Homo sapiens: one gene and its partners. The protein of the gene in region 4 purifies or fractionates together with the protein of the main gene of each other region. This does not show direct contact. Each region holds a gene or a part of one and is shown on either strand. Other genes may lie near its edges.

The links.
Region 1: the proteins of TMEM192 (region 4) and SYF2 purify together in Homo sapiens (affinity purification with mass spectrometry, with the first as the bait; one large-scale study listed by BioGRID). This does not show direct contact.
Region 2: the proteins of TMEM192 (region 4) and LEMD3 purify together in Homo sapiens (co-immunoprecipitation; 2 studies listed by BioGRID and IntAct, with this or other methods). This does not show direct contact.
Region 3: the proteins of TMEM192 (region 4) and ERO1A purify together in Homo sapiens (affinity purification with mass spectrometry, with the first as the bait; one large-scale study listed by BioGRID). This does not show direct contact.
Region 5: the proteins of TMEM192 (region 4) and TAX1BP1 purify together in Homo sapiens (affinity purification with western blotting; 2 studies listed by BioGRID and IntAct, with this or other methods). This does not show direct contact.
Region 6: the proteins of TMEM192 (region 4) and RAB7A purify together in Homo sapiens (affinity purification with mass spectrometry; 2 studies listed by BioGRID, with this or other methods). This does not show direct contact.
Region 7: the proteins of TMEM192 (region 4) and ACP2 purify together in Homo sapiens (affinity purification with mass spectrometry; 3 studies listed by BioGRID and IntAct, with this or other methods). This does not show direct contact.

What each region holds. Positions count from the first base shown.
Region 1 is NC_000001.11:25,225,829-25,230,000, reverse strand, and holds part of SYF2 (pre-mRNA-splicing factor SYF2), read left to right. Parts: intron 1-877; coding exon 878-1,003; intron 1,004-1,765; coding exon 1,766-1,883; intron 1,884-2,468; coding exon 2,469-2,559; intron 2,560-4,172. UniProt on the Homo sapiens protein: Involved in pre-mRNA splicing as component of the spliceosome.
Region 2 is NC_000012.12:65,239,062-65,243,087, forward strand, and holds part of LEMD3 (inner nuclear membrane protein Man1), read left to right. Parts: intron 1-867; coding exon 868-969; intron 970-1,074; coding exon 1,075-1,177; intron 1,178-1,847; coding exon 1,848-2,026; intron 2,027-4,026.
Region 3 is NC_000014.9:52,685,236-52,689,407, reverse strand, and holds part of ERO1A (ERO1-like protein alpha isoform 2 precursor), read left to right. Parts: intron 1-4,172. UniProt on the Homo sapiens protein: Oxidoreductase involved in disulfide bond formation in the endoplasmic reticulum. Efficiently reoxidizes P4HB/PDI, the enzyme catalyzing protein disulfide formation, in order to allow P4HB to sustain additional rounds of disulfide formation.
Region 4 is NC_000004.12:165,102,434-165,106,605, reverse strand, and holds part of TMEM192 (transmembrane protein 192), read left to right. Parts: intron 1-3,509; coding exon 3,510-3,656; intron 3,657-4,172.
Region 5 is NC_000007.14:27,791,776-27,795,947, forward strand, and holds part of TAX1BP1 (tax1-binding protein 1), read left to right. Parts: intron 1-230; coding exon 231-455; intron 456-1,290; coding exon 1,291-1,437; intron 1,438-2,547; coding exon 2,548-2,671; intron 2,672-4,172.
Region 6 is NC_000003.12:128,809,011-128,813,182, forward strand, and holds part of RAB7A (ras-related protein Rab-7a), read left to right. Parts: intron 1-4,172.
Region 7 is NC_000011.10:47,242,098-47,246,269, forward strand, and holds part of ACP2 (lysosomal acid phosphatase isoform 1 precursor), read right to left. Parts: intron 3,738-4,172; coding exon 3,585-3,737; intron 3,476-3,584; coding exon 3,377-3,475; intron 3,326-3,376; exon of another isoform or gene 3,298-3,325; coding exon 3,208-3,297; intron 2,771-3,207; coding exon 2,638-2,770; intron 1,225-2,637; coding exon 1,142-1,224; intron 1,028-1,141; coding exon 921-1,027; intron 802-920; coding exon 626-801; intron 1-625.

The DNA of each region.
Region 1 (4,172 bases), on a different chromosome or scaffold from region 4:
CCAAAAATACAAAAAAATAAGCCAGGCATTGTGGCACACGCTTGTAACCCCAGCTACTCGGGAGGCTGAGGCATGAGAATTGTTTGAACCCCAGAGGCGAAAGTTGAAATGAGCTGAGATGGCTCCACTGTACTCCAGCTTGGGTGACAGAGTGAGACTCTGTCTCAAAAAAAAAAAAGAAAGAGTGTCTTTCACATCATGTGACGTAATTTTTTTTTTTTTTTTTGAGATGGAGTCTCGCTCTGTCACCCAGGCTGTAGTGCAGTAGTGCAATCTCAGCTGACTGCAACCTCTGCCTCCTGGGTTCAAGTGAATCTCCTGCCTCAGCCTCCCGAGTAGCTAGGATTACAGGTGTGCACCACCATGCCTCGCTAATTTTTGTATTTTTAGTAGAGACGGGGTTTCACCATGTTGGCCAGCCTGGTCTTGAACTTCTGACCTCAGGTGATCCACCTGCCTCAGCCTCCCAAAGTGCTAGGATTACAAGCGTGATCCACTGCACCTGGCCAATTTAATAGTAATGCCAAATAAAGTCTACTTAAGTGCCACTATAGTATGGTCTCCAATACTGCAAAACCTTGTTCTGATCCAATAAAAAGGGACCACACAACTCAATAGAGGCAAAGCTGATTTTAACCTCCAGGGCTCTGGAACAGCAAACCAGTGCAACTCAACACATTTTTCTTGACTGCATAAAAACGTAGACCCTATTAGGCTATTCCCTGGCTTAAAATCCTGTGATGGCTCTCTATTGCTTTTAGGATAAAATGGGGTCAGCTTATTAATATGTCCTGCCTGACCCTCCTCAAAGAAGGCAAGGTGTATCTGGATTTATTTTCATGTTTTAGCTGACAGACTTCTTGTGTTACGGTTTTAGAATGAAGCTCGTAAATTAAATCACCAGGAAGTTGTGGAAGAAGATAAAAGACTAAAATTACCTGCAAATTGGGAAGCCAAAAAAGCTCGTTTGGAGTGGGAACTAAAGGAAGAGGAAAAGAAAAAGGTTAGGAACTATTCTATCTTCATAAGTGATTTAGTCAATCATTCTGTTGTATCAAGACACTACAACATGGTGGTTGTATACACTGGCTCTTAGGCCAAGCTGCCAGAATTGAAATTCTGGCTCTGCTCAGTACCAACTGCAACACGTTGGGTGAGTTTATTTAACTTCTCTGTACCTCTGTTTTCTCATCAATAAAACAGGGACTGTAACAATAATTATTTGAGTTCATTATGAATTAAGTGAGTTAATGCATGTAAAACATTTAAAACAAGGTCTGACACCTGATAAACACTCAATAAGTATCATGTGCTCACTTATATACCATAGTATATTCCCAAATTTCCTTTAAATGCTATTAAAGTGGCCGGGTGCAGTGGCTCATGCCTGTAATCCCAGCACTTTTGGGAGGCCGAGGCTGGCAGATCATTTGAGGTCAGGAATTTGAGACCAGCATGGCCAACATGGTGAAACCCCATCTCTACTAAAAATACAAAAATTAGCCGGGCATGGTGGCATGTGCCTGTAGTCCCAGCTACTTGGGAGGCTAAGAGATGAGAATCCCTTGAACCTGGGAGGTGGAGGTTGCAGTGAGCTGAGATCGCGCCACTGCACTCCAGCCTGCGTGACAGAGTGAGTGAAACTCCAACTAAAAAAATACTATTAAAGTATTGGTTGATATTTATTGGATCTTTCTTGATGTAAAGTAGATCAAATTATTGCATGTATCATAATTGTAGGTGTCAGCTTTTTTCTTCTTTTTAGGAATGTGCGGCAAGAGGAGAAGACTATGAGAAAGTGAAGTTGCTGGAGATCAGTGCAGAAGATGCAGAAAGATGGGAGAGGAAAAAGAAGAGGAAAAACCCTGATCTGGGATTTTCAGGTCAGATTGACCTTTATTGAACCTTATTGACTGGGCTGTTAGTCATTTCCTTCATTGTTTCTGGTTTCAAGAAAGGATGTGCCTCTTGTGCTTCGTGGGATATTCTTGATGAGGCTTAAGACCAAGAAAAGTACAAATATGTCTCTTAGGAGAGAAGTTAAAAAAAAAGGCTGTACTTCAGTTAGCCAGGTTTTTAAATACTTGATGATAAAATTTATCAAAGTCTGTTTGTCAGCATCTTCAGGATAGAAGCTATGCTTAGAATAGTGTTATGGGCATATATTACTTCACACAGATTGAGTATCCCTAGTATGAAAATCTGAAATCCCAAATGTTGCAAAATCCAAAACTGTTTGAATGCCAACATGGTGCTATGATGCTCAAAGGAAATGCTGATTGGAGCATTTCAGATTTTGAATTTAAGTATAATAAAGATATTCCAAAATCTGAAAAAAATCAGAAACACTTCCGATTCCAAGCGTTTTGGATAAAAGATACTCACCTGTGATAATTTAGATTTTTCTCTCAATAGGAAGGTCCAAACAAGGAAATATATTATCGCTGATTCTCATTTTATATTTTTAGATTATGCTGCTGCCCAGTTACGCCAGTATCATCGGTTGACCAAGCAGATCAAACCTGACATGGAAACATATGAGAGACTGAGAGAAAAACAGTAAGTCCTTTTTCAACCTGAGGTGATGTGGATGTATTTGTGTGTGTGTGTGTGTATACATGTACATAAATAGAAACATGCTTTAATGCTAAGGTATGGGTTATTAATAGTTGTCTAAGGATGGTCTCTGTTTTTTCTGGATATTTTTTTCCTTTGAGATGGAGTCTTGCTTTCTCACCCAGGCTGGAGTGCAGTGAATGGTGCGGTCTCAGCTCACTGCAACCTCCGCCACCTGGGTTCAAGCAATTCTTCTGCCTCAGCCTCCTGAGTAGCTGGGATTACAGGCGCCCGCCACCACGCCCAACTAATTTTTGTAGTTTTAGCTGAGATGGGGTTTCACCACGTTGGCCAGGCTGGTCTTGAACTCCTGACCTCAAGTGATCCGTCCACCTCAGCCTCCCAAAGTGCTGGGATTACAGGCGTGAGCTACTGCGCCCGGCCCTTCCTTTTTTTTTTTTTAAGAGACGGTGTCTCGCTCTGTTGCTTAAGCTGGAGTGCATTGACACTGTCATAACTCACTGTAACCTCAAACTTGTGGCCTCAAGGGATCCTCCCACATCAGCCTCCCCAGTAGCTAGGATTACAGACATGTGCCACGATTCCTGGCTAATTAATTTTTTTGTGGAGACGGGGTCTCACTGTGTTGCTCAGGCTGTCTCAAACTCCTGGCCTCAAGTGATCCTCCATCCTTGGCCTCCCACATGGTTGAGATTACAGGTGTGAGCCACTGTGCCAGGCCTAGTCTCTGTTTTGACAGCACTGTTTATTGCTTACTTCACAGCTATTAAATTAATCACATGTTTTTTGTTTTGTTCTTAACTGGGCATTCTAAGACTGGTTGTTGATTGGTTAACACCCTGATTGTCGTAGTTACTTAGATATTATTTTAGGAGGCAGAATGCTTTAGTGCTGGGGTTGGTGAACTTTTTCTGTGAAGGACCAGATAGTAAATATTTTAGCTTTGTGGGCCATATAGTCTCTGTCACAGCTATTCAGCTGTGCTGCTGCAGTGCAAAAGCAGCTGCAGAGAATTCATAAATGAAGCCTCTTTTCATAAACAGGTGGTGGGCTGCTGTAGTTTGGCAGCTTGTTTTAGTGGAAAAGGAAATAACCTCAGGATGGAGCTCTAATCCCAGCTCTGTTCCTAGCACTTTGTGACCTCTGATAAGTCCTGGAGCCTCTCTGCCTGTTGGCTCTTTGATCTGTACAGTGAAGGTGTTGGCGTAGATGATGTCTTAGGTTCCTTTCAATTCTGTAATTTTTTATTTTTTATTTTTATTTTTATTTTTTTTTTGAGATAGAATCTCGCTCTGTCGCCCAGGCTGGAGTGCAGTGGTGCAATCTTGACTCACTGCAGCCTCCGCCTCCTGGGTTCAAGTGATTCTTCTGCCAAGTAGCTGGGACTACAGGTGCCCGCCACCACGCCTGGCTAATTTTTTTGTATTTTTAGTAGAGATGGGGTTTCACCATGTTGGCCAGGCTGGTCTTGAACTCCTGACCTCAGGTGATGTGCCCACCTTGGCCTCCCAAAGTGCTGGGATTATTGGTGTGAGCCACTGCACATGGCCCTATTTTTTTTTTTTTGAGACAGAGTCTTGCACTGTCGCCTGGGC
Region 2 (4,026 bases), on a different chromosome or scaffold from region 4:
TACATAGAAATCTACTTTAGAAAGTAGAATTGAAAAATACAAAAATTGAGCTTATTTTTAAATAATAAAGTGTTATAAAGTTTATTAAAATTTAGTTTTTAAAATGTAATTTACCTACATTTAAAATTTTTATCATTTTTTAATTGATAATAGGGATTTAGGTGAGAGTTGTTTTTTCATTCTTTCTTTCTTCTTTAAAAATAATTCATTTTGGCCAGCTTTAGTGGCTCACACCTGTAATCCCAGCACTTTGGGAGGCAGGAGGATTGCTTGCACTCAGGAGTTTAAGACCAGCCTGGGAAGCATAGACCCTACCTCTACAAAAAAATTTTTAAAATTAGACAGGCATAGTGGCACGTGCCTGTAGTCCCAGCTACTTGGGAAGCTGAGGTAGGAGGATTTCTTGAGCCCAGGAGTTGGAGGCTGCAGTTAGCCATGATTGCACTACTGCCCTCCAGCCTGGATGACAGAGTAAGACCCTATCTCAAAAACAACAACAACAAAAGAAAAATTCATTTTACTTAAAGTAAGATTTAGTATGTTTAATCTCATGAGGTTCACTTTTCTAGTCGTTTTATGCTTCAAAGGAAAAAAGTTTGTGAAACATAGTTATATATATATATTTTTAAATAGTAGTTAGAATTTAAATGTTCACTTATCAGTGTAATGGAAGAAATGCTTTTTTCTAGAAAGTGAATCTTTGGAAAATGTTCAGTATTAAATTTTTTTATGTAGTTTTAATTATATAGCTAATTCAGCCATCTGTCTTGAAGGTTCATTCCGTTGTGGCAGTTAAAATAATCACTGAAATATTATTGAATGATATTGACCACAATTTTTAAAATACAAAGTATATTAATATTACAGGTGTAGTGATGGTTTGTGTCGTTCTGCGTTACATGAAATATCGATGGACAAAAGAAGAGGAGGAAACAAGGCAGATGTATGATATGGTGGTAAAGATTATAGGTATGATATTTGTAAGAATCTCAACTATTTCTAGAAGAGTCATTGCATGATTAAACTACATTATGTCAAGTGATTGATTCATTTGTAAATTTTATTTATTTTTAGATGTTTTACGAAGTCATAATGAAGCCTGCCAGGAAAACAAAGATTTACAACCTTACATGCCTATTCCACATGTACGCGATTCCTTAATACAGCCTCATGACAGGTGTGTTCAAAGCATTATGAGTTCAAGTAAATCAGAAAATTTAAGTGCTTTCTGCAGTATTGAAAATTATATTGAGAGCTGTGACCCTTCTCAACTAGACTTGCTTACTGCACAGGTTTTTTTTGGTTTTGCTTTGTTTTTGTACTTTATACTCTCTTTCTAAATTCTCTTCCATTCTCCTGATTTTGAGTGACACCTGGATTTCTAAGTCATTCTCATTCCTAGGCATTCTTGATTCTTTGTTGTTAGTCTCCATCTTATTTCCTTTAATTTCATCTTGATAAAGAAATAGATGACAGCCAGTGGCTGGTGTTTTACTAATGTTTTTTAAGTACTAACTTTATTATTAATGAAGCTTTTAAAGTAAAAACTAAAATGCAACTTTTTGAAAATAAAAGATAATTCCATATCCTGAAGCAGCATCTTGACCCTAGCAACACATAAAGCCAGTGGAGCTTTTGGGGAAAAAAAATACAGATGTTTGTGCTCTAGCTCTGGAAATTGAAACTCAGAAAATCTGAGATGAGATATAGGCATCTAAATCTTCTTTGAACAAACTCCATGAGTAGTGGTAAGAACAGCTAGAGTTAACTATTACCTCAGATACTAATATTTCAAAAAGATGACAAGCCAAGATGATAGTAAATTTGCCATTTTGTTCACATGATAGGAAAAAAATGAAGAAAGTCTGGGATAGAGCTGTTGACTTCCTTGCTGCTAATGAGTCTAGAGTTCGCACGGAAACACGAAGAATAGGTGGTGCAGATTTTCTGGTTTGGCGGTGGATCCAGCCTTCTGCATCCTGTGACAAAATATTAGTTATACCTTCTAAAGTATGGCAAGGTCAAGGTATGTATTTTTAAACATCAAAAAAGTAATTTTCTTCTAATTTTTCAAAATGACAAATATGTGTTAAGTGAAACAGTACAATTCAAAGATGTATGAAGGCAAAACTCTCTCGTTCTGTTTCGTAGAAGGAATCAGTGTTAGCTTCTTATGTATCCTTCCACACTTTTATCTTTGCTAATGCAAACATAAATGGTTTATCTTTAATAAAGATGAATATTCCTTGAATCTTGCCTTTTTCACTTAATGAAGCAACTTAGTATTATATATATTAACTGCATTCTTTTCATCTAATTTCTTTATGTAAATAAGACACATAATTTATGTTATATATACAATAAAATATATATAAACTATATATGTATATAAGTGAAGTCATAACTTTTTAACTGCTCTTTTTTTTCCAGTTTTTGCCTGCCTCCTCTTACTAAGACCTTTCTATTTATATATTCCTCCTGCCAAGTAACTTTTGTGGGTATCTTTCCATATTTTTCTTAATGCCTACATAGTTTCAAAAACATGTATAAATAAGAAAGGGGTAAGTTTATAGGGGGTTTTGAAGATTGGCTGTCATATGTACCCAAACCTTTACTACACAGAAAAGCAGAAAACAATGCATCAGAAAATTATGACTTTTTCCCTATAAAAGTATGTCAGTATTTGCTAAACATAGTATTTGTGGAAAAGGTAAGTTGTTTTGGACATGCAATACAAAGTCCAGTCACTCCTTTTTTATTCTCCAATTAATTTTCACTTTGAAAAAGCTTGAATAAGAGGCTTCTTTAAACATGGCATAAAAGTGATGCTCTGTCAGGGTAAACAGCTAAAGCAGGCAGGGCTTAATACCTGGGTGATGGGTTTGAGTTGATAGGTGCAGCAAACCACTATGACACACGTTTACCTATGTAACAAATCTGCATGTCCTGTACATGTATCCCAGAACTTAAATTAAAAAAATGATGCTTTCATGTTGCCAATGATTATACTATTTCCTCTAAATGATGCATGCATTTCAGTTTCCCTATAAACTGAAAATAGAGAATTCCTTATTTTACTTGACCTCTTAACAGTGTTTGACAGTTCAGCCCTCCTTGAAACTTTCTTCACTGGGATTTGGGGATGCCACCTTCTTCTGTTTTTTTTCTCCTACCTCAGACTTTTTCTTCAGTCCTTTTCTAGATTATCCTCTTTTTCTTCACCTCTAGGTGTTAGAGTTTCTCAAGGCCATCTTTTTTTTCCCACTCTGCCATTTCTCCCTAGATAATCGTCTTGCTGTGACTTAATTTACCATATTGGGATAACTCCCAAATTTTTTATTTTGAATGAAGTCTGGTTTTCAGATTTTTGTACCCAACTATATATTTCTGTACTAGGAGGTGGGCACCACAGATTCAACATGTACACCAGCCTGATCCTCTTCAGTGTTCCTAGTCTAGTTAATGATACCTTTCCTGAGTTGATTCTGCCATAAACTTAGGGATAATTCTTAATCTCTCCTTTATCCCTCTTTGTCCAACCTTTCAACAGGTCATGTCATATCTACTCCATAATATGTCCTGATTCTATCCGCTTGTCACTTGCACTGTTGGCCTGTCTTACCCACATCATTATCCTCTCCTTCTTAGACAACTATAATATAATAATAACCTTCTAACTGGTCATCTTGCATTCACTTCTGCTTTTACCTGAGTCTCCACATAACAATGTATTTTTAAAATATGTAGTTTTAAAAGACAGATCTCATCCTATTCTACTCCTTAAAACAGTTGAGTGGCTATTACTCTTACCATAATGCCCAAATACTTTTTTGTAGCCTACATCATCTTAAATAATCTGACATCTTCTGTAGGTTTATCTCTATTCTTTCTACTCCAGCCACATTTGCTCCTTCGTGCCCCAGGAGCTGTGTACAAGCAATCACCTCTGCTTGAAATCTTCCTTTACACACCTCTCTTCACCCTGCTAATTTTTATTCTTCAGTTCCCACATAAATTTCACTTTTT
Region 3 (4,172 bases), on a different chromosome or scaffold from region 4:
TGGAGTCTTTAGGATTTTCTATATATAAGATCATGTCATCTGCAAAAAGAGACAATTTTACGTATTTTTTATTTGGATACCTTTTATTTCTTTCACTTTCCTAATTCACACTTTGAGCATGTTTAAAAGGTATTTCATAAAAAATGTATATGAGGGCCGGGCGCAGTGGCTCATGCCTGTAATCCCAGCACTCTGGGAGGCTGAGGCGGGTGGATCACCTGAGGTCAGGAGTTTGAGACCAGCCTGACCAACATGGTGAAACCCTGTGTCTGCTAAAATACAAAATTAGCCGGGCATGGTGGCAGGCACCTGTAATCCCAGCTACTTGGGAGGCTGAGGCAGGAGAGTCTCTTGCACCTGGGAGGCAGAGGTTGCAGTGACCTGAGATTGCACCATTGCACTCCAGCCTGGGCAATAAGAATAAAACTCCGTCTCAAAAAAAAAGTATATGAGGAATATATTCTTATAGTGCTTTGTGTGAAAAAATAAAATGGTAATGTATAATAAGACTAGAATATATTGGTATACAAGAAAACTTTAGAAAGTGTTGTTTTGTCTTTCATTGCAAATTAAAGGATACCTCTGACATGAGAGTAGTGAACAAGCGGTACGTGGTAATTTTCCTTTATCCTGCCTTTTGCATTTGGTCAAATCAAACAGAGTCAACAGAGAAGGTAATTGAGGCTCCCTCCACAGCTAACTGTTGGTTATCTAGTTCTTTGTTCCATTGGGGCTACAGATGTCAAATTTTTGGGAAATTTTAGCTGCAAATTCGGCTGTATTTTTCTTATTCATTATGAAAATGCCATGTGCTGCTTTGGGAAGTAATACATGCTTCCCTTTCATTGGAAGCATTTAAGTAGAAGTAGGGTAATAATAATGATTAACATGTACTGACAATTTACTTTGTACTATTTATCTTGGTATCAACTCTTTGAGATGAGAACTATTACTATTTTCTATTAAGATGAGAAACCAAGGCCTAGAGAGGTTAAATAGCTGGGATAAAGTGAAAAACTAATGACTGGCAGAGATGGGATTCAAACCTAAGGAGGTCTGATGTTAGAACATACACGCTAACTATTGTTACACACTACCTGTTCCTTGAGGGATGTGAATGGAGGGATTTGCTGTTTTGCTTGGGAGATTGTAATAGAAAGCCTTCCAAGGCTTTCTAACTCTTAAAAGACTAGGACTTTTTTTTTTTCTTTTCTATTTTTTTGAGGCAAGGTCTTGCTCTGTCATTTAGGCTGGAGTACATTGGCATGATTATGGCTCACTGCAGCCTCAACCTCCCTGGCTCAAGCGATTCTCCCACCTTAGCCTCCTAAGTGGCTGGGACTACAGATGTGCACCCAATGCCTGGCTAGTTATTTTATTTTTTTGTAGAGATAGGGCCTCACTGTGTTGCCCAGGTTGGTGTCAAATTCCTGTTCTCAAGCAACCCTCCTGCCTTCACCTCTCAAAGTGCTGGAATTACACGTGTGAGCCACCATGCTGGAACAGAAGGCTGGAATTTTGAAGTGGTCCATGTTACTTGTCAGGCCTACCTTGGTCCTCCTATTTACTGTTCCTCAACTGGGGCCTTCTTATCTCTGCTTATTAGATTGGCCCTCTACCAAAAGCTATCATTACTTGAAGCCTAGAGCAGTTAGCCTCAAATGTTAGGATACTAACCTTTAAAACACATTAGCATTTAAAAAAATTTAGATTCCTGTGGTAGGTCAGAGTTCTGTTTTACTTTGGGATATAGCGTAGTAATTTTCCCCCTTACCCGCATTGTTCCATGTAGTAGTTATTTAGGCAGCCTTAGCACATCCTGAAACAACATCCAGTCCTCCCTGTTCCAGGTTGCCACCTGTCTTTGGTCTTAGTTGAGGTAATAGGATTTTGCTTTGTTTCCCGGATCCTGTTCTGTGTCTATTAACTGTATTTTACCTTAGCCCTTTCCTGAGGCTCTATTCTTTTTTGTTTTTTGAGACAGGGTCTCACTCCCATTGCCCAGGCTGGAGTGCAGTGGTGCAATCTCAGCTCACCACAGCTTCGACTTCCCAGGCTCAAGCCATCCTCCCACCTCAGCCTCCTAAGCAGCGGGGACTGCAGGCGTATGCCACCATGCCTGGCTAATTTTTTTTTGTAGTTTTAGTTGAGACAGGGTTTTACCATGTTGCTCAGGCTGATCTGGGACTCCCAGGCTCAAGAGACCTACCAACCTTGGCCTCCCAAAGTGCTGATTACAGGCATGAGCCTGAGATTCTATTCTAGTAACATGCTTTGTTCTCTGGTTTCTAGAACTGGTCCTGCCACCATCTTTGCCAGACTCTCTCCCAGGGATCAGGTTGGCAGGCTTATCTGAGTTGTCAGATGGCATGGATTTCCGAGAATCTTCTTGTCTTTCCTTTACTGAGCTGTCTTCATCCATTGAAACTCCTGCCACCCTTATACTCCCTTAGCAGCCCTGCTACCTGTGGTTGTAGTTAAGAATATCTCCTACTCCATATTTCAGGAAGGGGCAGGACATTTTTTTTTTTTTGAGATGGAGTCTCGCTCTGTCACCCAGGCTGGAGTGCAGTGGTGTGATCTTGGCTCACTGCAATCTCTGCCTCCCCGGTTCAAGCGATTCTCCGGCCTCAGCCTCCTGAGCAGCTGGGACTACAGACATGTGCCACCATGCCCAGCTAATTTTGAATTTTTAGTGGAGACAGGGTTTCACCATGTTGGCTAGGATGGTCTCAATCTCTTGACCTTGTGATCCGCCTGCCTCGGCCACCCAAAGTGCTGGGATTACAGGCGTGAGCCACTGTGCCCGGCCAAGAACATTTTAAAATCTACCAATCTACCATTTATCCTGCCTTCTTTCCCTTTGAGGTCTCTTGGCTATATGCCACCTCTGCTCTGGAGGATTTTTGCATTTCTTTCTGGTTTGGGGCTTCTTAGAGCTTCCTTTGTAATTAGGATAGAGATAGGAAGAATGATAGACACAAAAGGTGTTTACCTTTGCTGCTTGCTTTACTTGCTATGTGTGTTTCTGCCTCCTGTGCTTGTGTACTCTGGGGCACTGAGCACACCATAGGTGACATGGTGCTAGATATGTTTAATGAGACAGTATGGTGCTGGTCTCCAGTGATGAGTGACAATGGACAACATTCATTCATTCACCCACCTCTTCCACAAATAGTAATAATTTATTTGTGACAGAATCTCACTTTGTTGCCGAGGCTGGAGTGCAGTGCAGTGGTGTGATCTTGGTTCCCTGCAACCTCTGCGTTTTGGGTTCAAGCGATTCTCCTGCCTCAGGCGCCCAAGTAGCTGGGACAACAGGCATGGGCCACCATGCCCGGCTAATTTTTATGTTTCTGGTAGGGATGGGGCTTCACCATGTTGGTCAGGCTGGTCTTCAACTCCTGACCTCAAGTGATCCTCCCGCCTTGGCCTCCCAGGGTGCTGGGATTACAGGCCACAAATAATTATTGAGCATCTACTGTGTGCTTTCTGGAAGTATATGATTTTTCACTCAAGGATTTTATACTTTAGTGGGCAGGGGTAAAATAGATAAATTCACTGCTGTGAGGTACAGTAATACTTAGATAATAGTGTGTGGAGTGTCTTGGGAGCAGCTGGGAGAGGCATTTAACCCAGCGGGTGGTAAGGAGTACTGGAAGGACAGCTTCCTGAAAAAGGTGATACTGAGCTGAGGCTTGAAGATATATTTTAACCTTAAAAATGAATTCCTCAGGGGGAAGAATGGATGCCTTGAAACTTGCTCTCAAGTTTTTCATGTGTTTCTTTTTGTAACTTAATGTCTCTACTTTGCATATGTCCCTTTGGCCTTTGCAGTCTCTATGTCTGTCATTCTTTGCATAATAATTCATATCAAAGGGGAGAAACAGCTATTTTTTGTCCCTAGAAGTTCTGCTCTTAAGGTTGAAAAGAAAGTTTGAAAAATCATATCATTTAGGTTAGAAGTACTTTGTGTTGTTGGTATCCAAAATTAGGACTCTGAGATTCTTGTGTATTCAGAGAATTTTTAGTAGGAAACAAGGACAAATTTGCATATGAAATGAAAATAGTTATTACATGACAAAATATGTAGATCTGATTTCTAGAAACTGAATTAGTCCAAAACAAGTAAGAGTGGGAAAAGCAGTAAAAAGTTCTTCTTGAATATTGCT
Region 4 (4,172 bases):
GAGAGAGCCAGAAAACTCAGCAAGCTGCTTATACGCCTATTCTGTGCTTTGTTCTAGCTGCATTGGCAGCTGATTGGATGGTGCTTGCCCATATTGAGGGTGGGTCTTCCTCTCCCAGTCCACTGACTCAAATGTTTGGCTCCTCACAGACGATACTTTGCCATCCATTTGACACTTAATATTGACCATCATAGGGAGCTACCCAAAGTTTTTGAGGAGAGAAACACGAATGTTTGTCTTGGAGCAGTGAAAGAGATTGCCAAGACCAGAAGACTGGAAGCTTCTAATAAAAGGCCATGAGAAATGGGAGGGCCTGGACTAAGATAGTGAGAATAGAGAGGAAATAACAGGTTTAGGAGTTAGAATGGTAATGATTTTTTCTCTTTTTATCATGCCCCAGCACTGAGTGGATAGAATGGTAATGATTATAGGGGTAGTGTCTTTGTTTGGGTTGCTATAGTAAAATACAAATAGGGTAATTTACAAATAGAAATGTATTGACCACAGTTCTAGAGGACAGGAAGTCCAAGATTAAGGCAGCCACGGATTCAGGAAGCCCAAGATCAAGGTGCCAAGAGCCCTGGGGAGGGGTTGCTCTCTGCTTCAAAGATGGCGCCTTCTTGCTGCATCCTCACGCAGTGGAAGGTGGAAGGGAGCTCATTCAAGCCTCTTTTATAAGGGCACTGATCTCATTTATGAGGGGGGGAACCCTCATGGCTTAATTACTTCCCAAAGGAAAGCAGGGAACTATTGGGGGACACCAACATTTAGACCATAGCGGGGTGCAAGTCAAAAGTAAGAGTTAATAAAAAGGCCAAGTGTGGTGGCTCACACCTGTAATCCTAGCACACTGGGAGTGCACTTGGGAGGATTGCTTGAGGCTAAGAGTTCAAGACCAACCTGGCCAACATAGCGAGACCCTGTTGATTTTTATTTTAAAATTTAAAAAATATTAAAAAGAGAAAAGAGTTAATAAAGAAATAATAGTGGCTAATACTTATTGAGTGCTCTCTGTGCGTCAGGCAGTGTCATGAGGACTTGCATGTGTAGTGACTCATTTAGTATTCCTGACAGAGCTACGAAGCAGGTGCTATTATTAGTCTCCTTTTTAGATGTGGAAACTGAGGCATGAGAGATGAAGTAACTTGCTCTCAGCTAGAAAGCGGTAAAACTTGTGCTTGAATCCAGGCAGTTTGCCCTTAGGAGCCTGACCTTAACCACAGCTCTTACTGCCTTTGGTCACAGTTGATCCCCCGTATGTCCTGATAATCTCTTCTAATTAGCCCAGGTCTTTGATGATGCCCATAATTGAATTAGAAAATACTGCAGAAACAGGTTTGGGGCACTCATTCATTCATCTAGCAAATGTTTGCTGAGTGACAACCATGAGATAGTGTTGAGTGCTGGGATTACAAAGACAAGAGGTGTAAAGGTAATGGGTCCAATGACGTCTAGTGGAGAAGAGATAAGTAAGAGACCATCACAGGATAGTTTGATAGAAGAGGCAAGCACAGAATGCTTTGAAAAACATGGAGGGTGGCACAATCCAGATTAGGGGTATCCAGAAAGGCCCTGTGGTGGGAATTGCCCCTTCTGAGCATGAAAGAATGCACAGACATTAGCTAAGGGAAGAGCAGATCTCAAGGCTCCAACATCTGCTGACTGAGAATGAGCTAGAGGCAGAGGGGTCTTGAAGAGAACAGGAGTAATCTGAATTGTACCATGAGTTATGGTAAACTAAACAGGAAGCAATCTAGGCATTGAATAAAAGACTTGGCCAGGCGCGGTGGCTCATGCCTGTAATCCCAGCACTTTGGGAGGCTGAGGCAGGCGGATCACCTGGGGTTGGGAGTTTGAGACCAGTTTGGCTAACATGGCGAAACCCCATCTCTACTAAAAATACAAAAATTAGCCGGGCATAGTGGCGCGTGCCTTTAATCCTAGCTACTCAGGAGGCTGAGACAGGAGAATCGATTGAACCCAGGGGGCAGAAGTTGCAATGAGCCGAGATTGAGCCACTGCACTCCAGCCTCGGCGACAGAGCGAGATTCCATCTCAAAAACAAACAAACAAACAAAACAACAAAAACAGTTGCAGAGCAGTGTTGAATACCTGCTACTGGAAATTGAGGAGCCCACTCCAGAGCTAGGTTACACCCTAGATTACTGTCCTTATCTTTGTAATCTTAGCAATCAACAGCCATCTCTTACATCATTTGTCCTACTACCTACTTCCAAAATAAAGAGCTCTCATTCTGTGTAGCCAAAACCTATTCATGAATCCTTCATTTCTGTCTCATTGTAGTGCAGTTAGCTGACCTAAATTTTTTGGCATTGTCTTCTATGCTTTTCATTTGCTGATTTGTTATGTGCTTCCCATGAACCATATTCTTTTTTTCTTTTTTTTAACATGTGATGAGAACACTTAAGATCTACACTCTTAGCAAATTAAAAGTATATACAATGCAGTATATATCCATATTTTTGAGACGAAGTCTCTCTGTCGCCCAGGCTGGAGTGCAGTGGCGCAATCTCGGCTCACTGCAACCTCCACCTCCTGGGTCCAAGTGATTCTCCTGCCTCAGCCTCCCGAGTAGCTGGAATTGCAGCTTGCGGCCAAGAGTTCAAGACTAGCCTGGGGCCGGGCACTGTGGCTAATGCCTGTAATCCCACCACTTTGGGAGGCCGAGGTGGGTAGATCACCTGAGGTCAGGAGTTTGAGACCAGCATGGCCAACACAGTGAAACCCTCCCTCTACTGAAAATACAAAAATTAGCTGGATGTGTGCCGGGCACGGTGGCTCATGCCTGTAATCCCAGCACTTTGGGAGGCCGAGGCAGGCGGATCACCTGAGGTCAGGAGTTCGCGACCAGCCTGACCAACATAGAGAAACCCCATCTCTACTAAAAATTAAAAATAAAAAATTAGCCGGGTGTGGTGGTGCATGCCTGTAATCCCAGCTACCCCAGGAGGCTGAGGCAGGAGAATTGCTGGAACCCGGGAGGTGGAGGTTTCGGCGAGCCAAGGTTGTGCCAGTGCACTCCAGCCTGGGCAACAAGAGTGAAACTCTATCTCAAAAAAAAAAAAAAAAAAAATTAGCTGGGTGTGGTGGTGCACACCTGTAGTCCCAGCTACTCAGGAGGCTGAGGCAGGAGAATTGCTCGAACCTGGGAGGCAGAGGTTGCAGTGAGCCAAGATTGCGCCGCTGCACTCCAGCCTGGGCAACAGAGCGAGACTGTCTCAAAAACAAAAAACAAAACACAAACAAACAAGACCAGCCTGGGCAACATAGTGAGACCGTGTTGCTACAGTTTTTAAAAAATTAATTAATTTTTTAATTAATTAAATTAAATTAATAATTAATTTTTAAAAAATTGGATTCAGGTAGGCAATGTGTTCTCTTGCCTTTAATTTGTATGTGGTTAAAAAGCTCTGTAGTTTAGTAGATTTGTCTTAGAAACATAATCTAGAAAGTGGTGATTATAGGTTGCTTGTTTTTCTGCACCCCAGGGTTCCTTGGATATCACCCAGAGTATTGAAGACGACCCACTTCTGGATGCCCAGCTTCTCCCACACCACTCATTACAAGCTCACTTTAGACCCCGATTCCATCCTCTTCCTACAGTCATCATAGTGAATCTTCTGTGGTTTATTCATGTAAGTTGGCTGCAAGAAGGGGACCTATCCAGAGGTGATGTTTGTAAAAATTATATAAGTGTTTCAGAGGGCAGTTGTGCTGTATCTATCAACATTTAAAATGTAGGGCACATGTTCTTAGGACATCCTGAGTGCTGTGTCATGGGCAAAAAAAAAAAAAAAAAAGTACGTACACTTTTACTTATATCTTCAAATAATTCATTGTGGATATATTTGCACACATGTAAAGATATTGTTGATAATAGCCATGTTGTCTGTCATATCAAGAGACTACAAACTACCTGGCTACTTGGCATCCAGAAGACACTGTGTGTCCCATTCATATAAGGAAATGCTATGCAACTGTTAAGAATGGGGTGGATAGGTATACAGTATATTAACATAGAATAGCCTTCATGATTACATTGTCGAGTGAAAAAAAATCAAGTTTTCAACCTTGTGTACAGAATGTTCCTATCTGCAGTTTTTAAAAGGGAGTTGAGAGGGCTGTTGTGGACCTGTTTTCCTGTATATAAT
Region 5 (4,172 bases), on a different chromosome or scaffold from region 4:
TCCTTGTGTATAAAGTAGTAGCAGTGAAACCAAGTACATAGGGTTGTTATAGAGGGAACCTAAAACAAAGTTACTTCTTAAGTTTTTTGTAGGCATATACTCTGTAAGTCATGAGTAGAAAAACCAATATCTAAAATTTTGGCCCTGTTGAAATATGTGCGAAAATTGTTTCTGCTTCTGTTTTTTACTTGAGTGGTTGAATTACAAATATATTTATCTGCTTTCTTCAGGAAGATACTTGTTTTTTAAAGGAGCAACTTCGTAAAGCAGAGGAACAGGTTCAGGCAACTCGGCAAGAAGTTGTCTTTCTGGCTAAAGAACTCAGTGATGCTGTCAACGTACGAGACAGAACGATGGCAGACCTGCATACTGCACGCTTGGAAAACGAGAAAGTGAAAAAGCAGTTAGCTGATGCAGTGGCAGAACTTAAACTAAATGCTATGAAAAAAGATCAGGTAAAACAAGTTAATTTTGAATTTGCATTTTGATTTAAGAAACCACTATAATCTCACAAAGTAGTAAATTGTGTTAAGATAAGACAGGTCAGATTTCTGCCTTATTTTAAATTTAAAATTTTCATTCCTTTTGTTTAGTCATTGTGACTTCTTGGCTTACAGTTAATGTGTGCTGTAAGGAAAACTTCTGTAAGCAGAATTCTTAATGGTTGGTGAAAGCTGCCCTATTGATTAAATATATTGATGTCAGATATGTATTGTTTTGTTTGGAATTTCTTACTAGCTGTATAAAACAGTATTATGGTTGTTTAAGGGAGTAATAATTGCTCTTCAGGAGGTGGATTATTTTTCTCTAGTTTTTTAAATGAACCTTAGTCCTAAGAATGTAAAACTGGACTTAACAAGAGACCCTATGTTGCTCTGTAGCCAAAATCCCAAAATAAAAAAGTGGCCGGGGACAGTTGCTCACACCTATAACCTCAGCACTTTGGGGGGCTGAGGTGGGAAGATCGCTTGATCCCAGGAATTCAAGACCAGCCCGGGCAACATAGTGAGACCTCATCTCTACAAAAATTTTCAAAAATTACCCAGGTGTGGTGGTGTGCAGCTGTAGTCCCAGCTAGTCCAAAGGCTGAGACAAGAGGATTGCTTGAGCCAGGAGGTCAAGGCTGCAGTGAGCCATAATTGGGCCACTGTGTTTCAGCCTGGGTGACAGAGCAAGACTCTGTCTCAAAAACAAAAAAAAGAAAAAAAGTAAGATTGAAGTTGGGGTTACTATTAACATTAGGAGGTATCAGATTTTTATTTTTTTCTTCAAATGTTTGTTTCTTTCTAGGACAAGACTGATACACTGGAACACGAACTAAGAAGAGAAGTTGAAGATCTGAAACTCCGTCTTCAGATGGCTGCAGACCATTATAAAGAAAAATTTAAGGAATGCCAAAGGCTCCAAAAACAAATAAACAAACTTTCAGATCAATCAGTAAGTATCATTAAATTTACACATAGTAAAATGTGTTGTTAGTATTTTTGTTCGAAAATCAAATTTGTAATATTCCAAATATCAACCTTTTAAATATTATTTATCTCTGCTTGATTTCAAGTCATTGGCCAAATATTGTAATAACTCTTCTTTAAAAAAGTCTGGAATTTTAATTTACTGGACAGCCAACAAAGGAAGCAAGGGCAGTAGCAAGGAAAAAACAGAAAAAAGTCTTCTTTTCTAGATAATTTCCCTCTTAAGTTCTTGATAAATATCTGTCACTCAAAACTCAATACTTATTATTGACTCTTGTGACCATGACATCTATCCTCATTGGAGTTCACCATTAATCATCCCTAGGTCTTAGATGGTGTCTCAGTTGTAATTGGCAAGTTCTTCATACTCATATTATGAAGATTCCTATTCCTATTAGATTAGGAACAGTTAAAGAGTGTTAGCTAATTCTTTTTTATTCCATTTGAGAATAGGTAGGTAGATTTGTAATATACCAAAGAAGATGTTTTTGTTTTGAGGTATGTATGTTTCAATGTGGGTCCTTAAACTGTGCTTAAATACAAGGCTTACTATCTGAGGAACTCCTGGAAATGTAGAAGAAACATATTTAAAACCTGAAATTGAAAGTGGTACTATAGCTCTCTTTTACTATGTGATGCATATGATACTTTCCTGGTCCTACTTTTTTAAATCAGAGGAGACAAGCAAGGAATGCATGTAGTAAAGTAGGAAGGCTTTTGTGAAAAAATATGATACTTTAAGTATGACTCACTCACATGTATGAATTTGGCCTGGGGCCTTTTGAGTACGTTATAACTTTGTAGTAGATTTCTGTGAATGACTTATTTTGGTGGTCTTTTGATGAGTTTATAAGAAAAAGCAAAATATAGTATATTTCTTTTGCAACATTTAGGTCAGTTAGCAAAATGATGTGTATAACTTTAGTCTTTGTTGGCTTTTAAAACAAGAGCAGCTTTGTGGACTTCTTAGGATTTCCTAAAGTAATATGTAAAAATATTATTTACTTAGTTACTGCAAGGAGGAAATATAACTAATTCATTGACTCATTTAACAACTTATTAACATTTTGAATAGGCTAATAATAATAATGTCTTCACAAAGAAAACGGGGAATCAGCAGAAAGTGAATGATGCTTCAGTAAACACAGACCCAGCCACTTCTGCCTCTACTGTAGATGTAAAGCCATCACCTTCTGCAGGTAAAAATCTTTTAGACTTTTTGTGTAGGGTGTCCTACATTGAAAAGTACTTATACTGCCTTCTTCCATGTGTTAGAATTTCAGGATGTTCATAAAAATTTTCATGTGATAAGTGAAGGAATTGAGGCAACAAGAAAATAAGGGTATAAATGTAAAATAGAGTCATGCAAGTGGTGAATATACACAACATGAACATATAAAATGTGAATGTAAACTAGTAGTTATCTTCTTGAGACTATTCACACATGTTAAAAATGAGCTGGTGCTTGTGAGTACTCATTTGGGCTACATAGGACAAAAGCCACGAATTGAATTTTTACTTTATGTTCCATTAAATCTATGGAATTTTGAAGCATTTTATTTGTGGATTTTAATTTTTAAATTCTGCAGGGGAAAAAATCCCCTATTATTCTCATATTTTTCTATTTATTCATTTATTTTTGGCTGCTTTGGATCAATGGGGGTACTTCTTCCCTTGTCAATGTACCTGTTGGCTGATGAGTTAAGTTTTTATTAGTTTATTAACTTATAGAACAGAATAGAGAGACATAGTGAGAACATTAATAACATGAAAACTTGGATTAACTAGGTTTTCATCTGTCCTGATTTTTTCACTTTTATGTAAATTTGACAGTAATGACGTTAAATACTAGAGAAAGTATATTTTCTTGTTTAGTGTGTGTAGTAATTGATCTTTTAAGTCTTTTTAAATGTAAACATCTTAGACTATTAAATATTAGGTTTATCCCCTGTAGGACAGAATTGAGCCTTCTGTTTCCATGTATCCTCTGTAGTACCTAAAATGGTGTTATAGGGTATTTACTTAATAAAGACTTAGTGGTAATGAAGGGCTAGAAGAATGATTTAAAATGTGTTCTTGGTGGGGTATGGTGGCATGCGCTTGTACTCCTAGCTACTCTGGAAGCTGTGGCAAGAGGATCACTTGAGCTCAAGAGTTTGAGGCTAGCCTGGGCAACATAGTGAGACCCTGGCTTTCAGAGAGGGGAAAGAGAATTCTCAGAGTATGGTTTTCCTACTTACCCTGTCTATTCAGTTATATAAGGAGAACAATTTTTGTGCTGTTATGGAACTCTTTTTAGCAAATTTTGTTTTGTTTTGTTTTTGAGACAGAGTCTCACTCTGTCCCCCAGGCTGGAGTGCAGTGGCGTGATCTCAGCTCCCTGCAGCCTCTGCCTTCTGGGTTCAAGCAATTCTCCTGCCTCAGCCTCCTGAGTAGCTGGGACTACAGGTGTGTGTCACCACGCCTGGCTAATTTTTTGTATTTTTAGTAGAGACAGGATTTCACCGTGTTAGCCAGGATGGTCTCGATCTCCTGCCTCGGCCTCGACCCGCCTTGGCCTCCCAAAGTGCTGGGATTACAGGCATGAGCCACCGTGCCCGGCCGCTTTTTAGCAAATTTTTAAAAAATCAAAGAATAATCCTTTATTATTGAATGCGAACTTGGTTCTGGCCAAACACACATTTAACAATTCTCAACTAG
Region 6 (4,172 bases), on a different chromosome or scaffold from region 4:
GCAGACTTGGCCACGCTTACCCCCAAATAATAATGTTTGTGTTTTTCTTAATGTTCATATAAGGGAATGGAAATCCAAATATGTGTAGGAAAGTGTTTCCCACCTGTTCCCTGTTGCCTGGCATCACTGTCTGAGTTTTTCTCTTCCATCACTACTGTCCCTGTTGTCTTTATGCTTTTATTTTTAGAGCTAGCCCTTAAGAAGTTAGATTGTTAAATCGGAGGGTGTATCTTATTGTAAGTCAGGGTGCCAGGTTGCTTTCCCCAAGGGGAATAACATTTCAGCAATGTGGGCTTGCTTTCTTCTACCTCCTTGCCAGCAAGCAATAGGTGTCACCTGTCACTGCTGACATTGCCGATCTTTGGGTGTGTAAATTGCCACCATCGTGACTACTGGTCCCTCTGAGTTCCCCTCCCTGGGGCTTAGCCATTTGGATTTTCTCTGCTGCACACAGCCGGCACACAGCACATGGTTGGGCCTCTCTCAGTTCTCATGAGCTGTTGGTGAATTGAAGTTAACTCTACTTGCATCTTAAGTGACTTTTCCAACTCTGTGGTCTTTTTAAGTCCTTTGAACATAGGGAAAAAGTAATTTTTTATTTGGTTATGTCATTTTAAGTTTCTATGTTTCCTGTGTCTACCTCAGATTTTTCTGTAATTCAGCTGGAATTTGTTTTGGCTTATGGCAGAAAAGAGAGACTTGCCTTTCCTCTCAAGAGAGCTCAGCCAGTTGTTTGAAATCATTCAGCTATGTTACACAAGCCGTTTCCCTCCCTGAATAGACCGTGGCCTGTGCTAAATGCTCGTATGTGCTGGGATCTGTTTCTGGTCTCTCCAGTCTGTTCTGGTGATGTCCATGCCATGTTCCCTTATCTGGACTGTGTTGATTTGACTGCCTGATGAGGCAAGTTTCCTCTTGCCACAGTCTTTTTTTTTTTTTTTTTTTTTTTTTTTTTTGAGACGGAGTCTTGCTCTGTTCCCCAGGCTGGAATGCAATGGCGTGATCTCGGCTCACTGCAACCTCCGCCTCCCAGGTTCAAGCGGTTCTCCTGCCTCAGCCTCCTGAGTAGCTGGGATTACAGGCATCCGCCACCATGCCCAGCTAATTTTGGTAATTTTTTAGTAAAGATAGGGTTTCACCATGTTGGCCAGGCTGGTCTGGAACTCACATTGTGAACCGCCCGCCTCAGCCTCCCAAAGTGCTGGGGTTACAGGCATGAGCCACCGCACCCGGCCTGCCACATTTCTTTTTTAATAATTTTGTTTCCACCATTTTCCTCTCTTACCTTCCACACCCCAAATAAAACTCTGTTGAGATTTTGATTGGAATTTTTTTCTTCAAGCCCACTGTTTTTTCCTCATTGATTGCAGTTTTGTTGTGGCTGTTGCATTAGTCTGCTCAGGCTGCGTTAACAAAACCCCACAGCCTGGGAGGGTCCAACAACAGACATTTTGTTTTCTCACAGTTCTGGAGGCTGGAAGTCCATGAGCAAGGTGCTGGCACATGTTTCTGGTGAGGGTGCTTTTCTGGGCTATCTTCTCACTGTGTCCCTCCCATGCCCTTTCTGCTGTGTGCACAGAGAGAGGACACATGAGCAAGGTGTCTCTGGTGTCACCTCTTCTTATAAGGACACGAATTCTCAGATCAGGTCCCCATCCTGCAACCTCATTTAACCTTCATTCCTTCCTTACTCCAAATACAGCCACCTGAAGGGTTAGTGCTTCAACACAGGAATTTTGGAGGAACACAAACATTCTGCCCAGCCGAGTGCGGTGGCTCATGCCTGTAATCCCAGCACTTCGGGAGGCTGAGGCGGGTGGATCACCTTAGGTCAGGAGTTCAAGACCAGCCTGGCCAACATTGTGAAACCCCATCTCTACTAAAAATACAAAAAATTAGCTGGCGTGGTGGTGGGCACCTGTAATCCCAGCTACTTAGGATGCTGAGGCAGGAGAATTGCTTGAACCTGGGAGGTGGAGGTTGCAGTGAGCCGAGATTGCACCATTGCACTCCAGCCTGGGCAACAAGAGCGAAACTCCATCTCAAAAAAAAAAACAAAACATTCCACCCATGATACTATTTTAGGTCTTGTTTCTGTTCCTTCAGTAAGATTGATTGATTCTTTTTTTTTTTAGAGACAGGGTCTTGCTCTGTCAGTCAGGCTGATACGCAGTGGTGCAATCATCACTCGCTATAACCTCCAACTTCTGGGCTCCAGCAGTCTTCCCACCATAGCCTCCTAAGTAGGTAGGACTACAGGCACACCCATGCTATAATTGATTTATAATATGATCCTTTGCCTTTCACAGTAAACATATTCCTAGGTACTGGTGGGAATATAAAATGTCACTATTTGTAATAGCCAAAAAGTAAGAACAACTCAAATGTCCATCAACTGGTAAGTGAATAAACAGGGCAGCTTATCCATGCATTCTAATATTATTCAGCTATAAGAAGGAATGAAGTAGTGACACATGCTGCCACATGGGTGCTAAGTGAAGGAAGCCAGTTGCAAAAAGACCATATGTTGTACGATTCCATTTCAGTGAAATGTCCAGCCCGGATGCAGTGGCTCATGCCTAAAATCACAGCACTTTGGGAGGCTGAGGCCGGAGGATCACTTGAAACCAGGAGTTTGAGACCATCTTGGGCAACATAGCAAGGCCTCATCTCTACTAAAAATTAAAAATTAGCTAGGTGTGGTGGCATGAGCTTATAGTTCCAGCTACTTGGGAGGCTGAGACTGGAGGATTGTGTGAGCCCAGGAGTTAGAGGCTGCAGTGAGCTGTGATCATGCCATTGCACTCCAGCCTGGGCGACAGAGCAAGACTCTGCCTCAAAAAAAAAAAAAGAAAGAAATCACAGTCCACTAGAAGAAATGGGGAAAATTAAAATAAATAAATAATGTTTAAAAATTAAGTGTCCAGAATAATAGGCAACTCTATTGAGACAGAAAGTAGATGAGTGGTTGCTGGGTCCAGGATGGTATAGAATGGGGGTGGGAAGGAACTACTAATGGGCATAGGGTTTTTTGGGGGGTGATGAGAGTATTTTAAACTTAATGTTGATGGCTGCCCAACTTTCTGAATATACTAAAAACCATTGAATTGTACACTTCATGGCATGTGAGTTAAAACCCAGCAAAGCTATTAGGAGTGCAATGGCACCATCTTGGCTCACTGCAACCTTGACCTCCCGGGTTCAAGCAATTCTCCTGCCTCAGCCTCCTGAGTAGCTGGGATTATAGGTGCTTGTCACCATGCCTGGCTAATTTCTGTATTTTTAGTAGAGACGGGGTTTCACCATGTTCGCCAGGCTGGTCTTGAACTCCTGACTTCAGGTGGTCGACCTGCTTCAGCCTCCCAAAGTGCTGGGATTACAGGCGTGAGCCACCATGCTCAGCCAAAGCTGTTATTTTTTTAAGTATGTATTCCTAGATGTTTTATACTTTTATAGTTATTGTGAATGGAATGATTTTTTTCCTAGATAACTTTTAATGAATAGAAACAGTTCCTGCTTTATCTCCAAATTCTAGAACAGTCACTGGCACACAAGTGCTCAGTGTTTAAGTGACATTGTTTTCCTGCACCCAAAAGTAGAATGCTGCTCCTCATTGGAAGCATGTTACTTTAGCAAAGTGCCACTAAAATGACCATAGTCCATGTGCTCTGATCACTTGTCACAGATGGTGATAAAATTCATTCACAGCTTCCTTTCTAGGCCTGCAGCATTTGGGAGACAAAACTCTGCTAAACCTTTGGAAGAAAAAAGAGACCAGAGGCCATTGGTCCCGAAAAGTGGATGGAAGATAGGGAGGTAGAAGGAATGTTACAGGCTGAGAGGGCAGCTCACACTCAGCTCCAGCCACTTCACCTCGTGCACACACTGGCTGAGGGTTGCCAGATGTTTGAGAAAAGCTAGAAATCCAGACCATTGTTAACCATTGGCAACTATAGGGAACATACAGAAAGCATCTGAACTGGATGTGGTAGAGCTCCCAGATCATGATCTGATTGAGAATGTCCATGAACTTCTGTCCTGATTGCTCAGTGCAGACTGCTGCTTCTTCTGGCAAGACTCCTCTCTTCACATTGACCTGGAGTTGTCACAAAATCTGTTTTTCTCTTGCTACTCCCCTGAGCATGGCACCTTCTGCCAGAGCGCTCCCTTAA
Region 7 (4,172 bases), on a different chromosome or scaffold from region 4:
TCAGGAAGGGGTGACCAATTATGTAATGCTGCTGAGAGGTGAGAGAAGCTAAGAATTAGTCACTGGCTTTGGTAGGAGGTGACTGGTCACCAGACAAGTATGGCTTCAGGGTAGTGGAAGGTGACACAAGACTGTCTAATGTGAGTCTAAGAGAACAAGTGGTGAGGAAGCAGAGCCAGATTCTAGGCAGCTCTTTCAAGGATTCCATTCTGAGAGGGAAGAGGCTGGTGGCTGGGGAAGAGGTGGCTCTCAGAGGTCATGGATGGGCTTTTGGGAGGGAAGTGATCCAGTAGAGAAGCAGAGGCGTCAGAGCTCCTTGCAGAGATGAGGAGAGAACCCAAGTGCGGGTGGAGAGGCCACCCTAAGCGGTGGCTTCCCCCAGGAAGTAACCTGGTGGTGGGAGAACGAGCCAATTCTCTCTTGGCTCTTATTTTCTCGGTGATACAAGTGAGACATCACCCGAGGGTGAGAAGTGGGGAGAAGGTATAAAGCAGTCTGGGGTCGGGGAGGGAACTCCTAGCAAATGCAGTCAAATGGCTGGAAGTGCGACAGCTCTTGAGATGCGTGGATGTGAACTGCAGGCTGGTCTAGGGCATGACTAGCAAGGAGGCCGGTGACAGCTCACCTGTGTCTGCAGGACCGCTTGCCAGCTGGCACTCCTGCTGCCAATCCTTGGGCACGACGGGCTCTGTGAGGCGAAGGAAGTCCTGCAGTGGGCAGCGGTGAGGGCAGCCAGGCAGGCTGAGCGGCCAGGGGGCCTTGTCACTCTCGTTCCGAAAGTACATCTCCACTGAGAAATTCCTGAGGGTCGACAGGAGGCAACATGGGAGCTGCTCAGCCTGCCCATCATGGGGTCCTTGGGCTGCCCCGAGCCACCTCCCGAGGGCCCCCCTCCAGAGGACACTGCTAGCTCCACTCACCCAGAATCTTCCTGGTACAGTTCAAATATGTGGCAGGAGGCGTAGGGGGCTTGTTCACCATTGTAGACATCCAGTGCCATTTGCAGGGCAACCAGGGTAGTGTCGTGCTGCGGGGGAGAGGGGCTGCCCGTCAGCATTGTTCCCCACACCCGCAGGAACCGAACAGAGAAGAAATCCAGCTCCTTGCCTGACACAGCACGCTAGGGAGCGCAGGCACTCACCGCAGAGTAAACCAGCAGCTTGGGGAGCTGGGAGGTGGTCGCCATTAGGGTCAGGTTCTTCCTTATCTGAGCCAGCAGGACTCCTGAAGGAGAAAAGTCCCCGGTGTTGCTGGCTACAGCCACCTCTGCCTTCTAATTAGACCTATCTGTGCTCCTTTCACCCTCTGCCAGGCCTGGGCCTCATCACCTACACGGAGAACTCTTTAGTGTCATAGGGACCATGTAAGAACTCTGTGGCACCCCTCCTCTCTAAGAACTGTCAAATGTACAGAAGGAAGCAAGACAAAACAAGATATCTGCCTATATTTCAACACGGATGTAGAAACCTGCCTGTGTTTACAGAAGCACTTCAGTTTGAAACAAATGTAAACTTAAGATTGCTTCAGAGTACACAGCGGGTGGGTGCATGCCCGGGTAACTACCATATGCTCTGAAAAGTGAGATGTCAAAAAGGTGTGACAGCAGGCATGCCCTTAGGTGCTCAAATAAGGAAGCTGGCATGTGTGTTACTCTCAGCCTTCTCAAAATGGCCCCCAGTGGTTCTCTTGGGGCAGCTATTCATTTAGGAGAGGGAGGGTCTTCTGATGTGGGCGAAACTTAAGAACATGAATGGCAGGGCTGGGCGTGGTGGCTCATGTGTGTAATCCCAGCACTTTGGAAGGCTGAGGCGGGCAGATCACCAGAGGTCAGGAGTTTGAGACCAGCCTGGCCAACATAGTGAAACCCCATCTCTACTAAAAATATAAAAATTAGTTGGGCGTGGTGGCAGGCACTTGTAGTCCCAGCTACTTAGGAGGCTGAGGCGGGAGAATCGCTTGAACCTGGGAGGTGGAGGCTGCAATGAGCCGAGATCGTGCCACTCTACTATAGCCTGGGTGACAGAGCAAGACTCTGTCTCAAAATAAATAGGCTGGGTATGGCGGCTCATGCCTGTAATCCCAGCACTTTGGGAGGCCAAGGTGGGTGGATCACCTGAGGTCAGGAGTTCAAGACCAGCTTGGCCAACATGGTGAAACCCTGTTTCTACTAAAAATACAAAAATTAGCTGGGCATGGTGGCTGAGGTCAGGAGTTTGAGTCCAGCCTGGCGAACATGGTGAAACCCCGTTCCTACTAAAAATACAAAAGTTAGCCAGGCATGATGGCATGTGCCTGCAATCCCAGCTACTCAGAAGACTGAGGCAGGAGAATTGCTTGAACTCAGGAGGCAGAGGTTGTAGTGAGCCAAGATCGAGCCATTGCACTCCAGCCTGGGTGACAAGAGGGAAACTCCATCCCCCCGAAAAAAAATAACAATTTTTTTAAAAAGAATATGAATGGCAGAAAAGGAAGAGAGGTGGGGAAATTTGGTGACTAGCGGCATGAGGAGGGGGATTTGGTTTTGAAAGAGCAGGGAGTGTTTCAGTAGAGAGGGAAGTGTGTGAGAAGCCCCCACAGCAGATTTTTAACGCCTTAGGGTCCTGAGGAGTAGAGTGACACGCTGTCCTTGTCACTCACCCCCCTGAAGCCGGGCCTTCTCCGCCTGCTGGTAGATTCCGAAGAGGAAGCGGAAGCTGAAGTCCTTTAGCCGGCTGAGACGCTGCATGGTTTGGGGTGAGGCCCAGGGCGGCAGGCGCAGCCCGTGCGTTTGCTGTGTATCGCAGCAGGCAGGTTAGCGCCCCAGGCCTAGGCCAGCCTCTCCAGGGGGCAGCTCTCTTCCCTAGTGGGAAGGTGCCTGTGTGTGTGAGGGAGGGAGAGGGGAGAGAGGCAGAGGGGCTGGAACCAGTAGACATGGCAGGCGGTGTGGATGCTTCAGGGCACAGGAAAGGAAGCTCAGGCACAAAAAGTGAGACTCAGCAGAAAGGAGCTCTGGGTGGAGAGCAGCAGGGACTGCTGACAATTAATAAACCATTTCCCACTCTGAGGATCTCTGTCACCCATGAGGGAAGTTCCCGTGTTTCACAAGCACAGCCTCCCTGGACCTCCCCAGGGGCGTGACGGTATCAGGCACTGTGTTCTACCGTCCTGGTGACCTGGGCCTGCTGAGAGGGAAAAGAATGATCACAGTGGGCACCCTAGTGGGCTCACCTCACAGAAGAGTGTGTCATAGACATTCCAGACGGTCTCCAGTGTCAGGTCTGTAAGCCCTGTCTCGTTGGCCACCATGTCCAGAAATTGCTATGAAAAATGGATCAGGGTCTCAGTCCTGCTCTGGGGAAAAGACAGCGTGGTGAGCTGCACCTCTGCCCCCACTCACTGCATTCCGAGAACTCTCATTCTGATACTCTGGTGTCTGCCGGGTCTCGTTCTGCAGCTGCTCATAACGGGGACATGGGCCCAACGGGAACTTCAGCAGCTGTAGAGCGAAGCGGGGAAACAGGCAGCGGGAAAAGGAGCCTGGCATCAGCAGGCCTACGGCCAGAGCTGTCCCCTCACCACCCCAGGGAAGGGCTGGCCACTCTTACCCTGTCCTCAGTGATGGGCACAGTGTGCACAGGAATAGGCTGCCACGAGATGTTCGGGTTGAAGCGCTGCATCCCGTTGGGAGGGAAGAGTCCAGCCAGGTTGGCCTCAGCACTCATGAGAGTCCGGTCAAAGTCTGTGCTTCGCACATAAACCTGCAGCGATAGCAACACAAGTCGTGTGTGTGTGTGTGTGTGTGTGTGTGTTGGGGAAGTTTTGGTCACCCTGAAGTGGAGCCTTGTATGTATGTGTGTGTGTGTGGTGGGAAGTTTTGGTCACCCCAAAGTGGAGCCCCAGAGGAGAACCTGTTCCTGATGGTCACCCAGCAAACTAAACCTACCATACATCTGGCCCTCACCCTCCTCTGGCCTCTGGCCTTCCCCATCCCCCAAACACTCCACTGGGGGTTGTCACCACTCTGTGAAGAACTCTTGTGGGAATGGCCTTAGTTGAAATGCCCCTTCCAGTCAAAAGTGCTGAGTCAATCAGTAAGGCTCTCTGGTCTGTCTGGTTTCATAACAACACCTCTCTCCCTGTCTAGATCAGGGTCCTTGGGGCAGAAACTGGCTCCAGTGACGACCCTTAGAGAC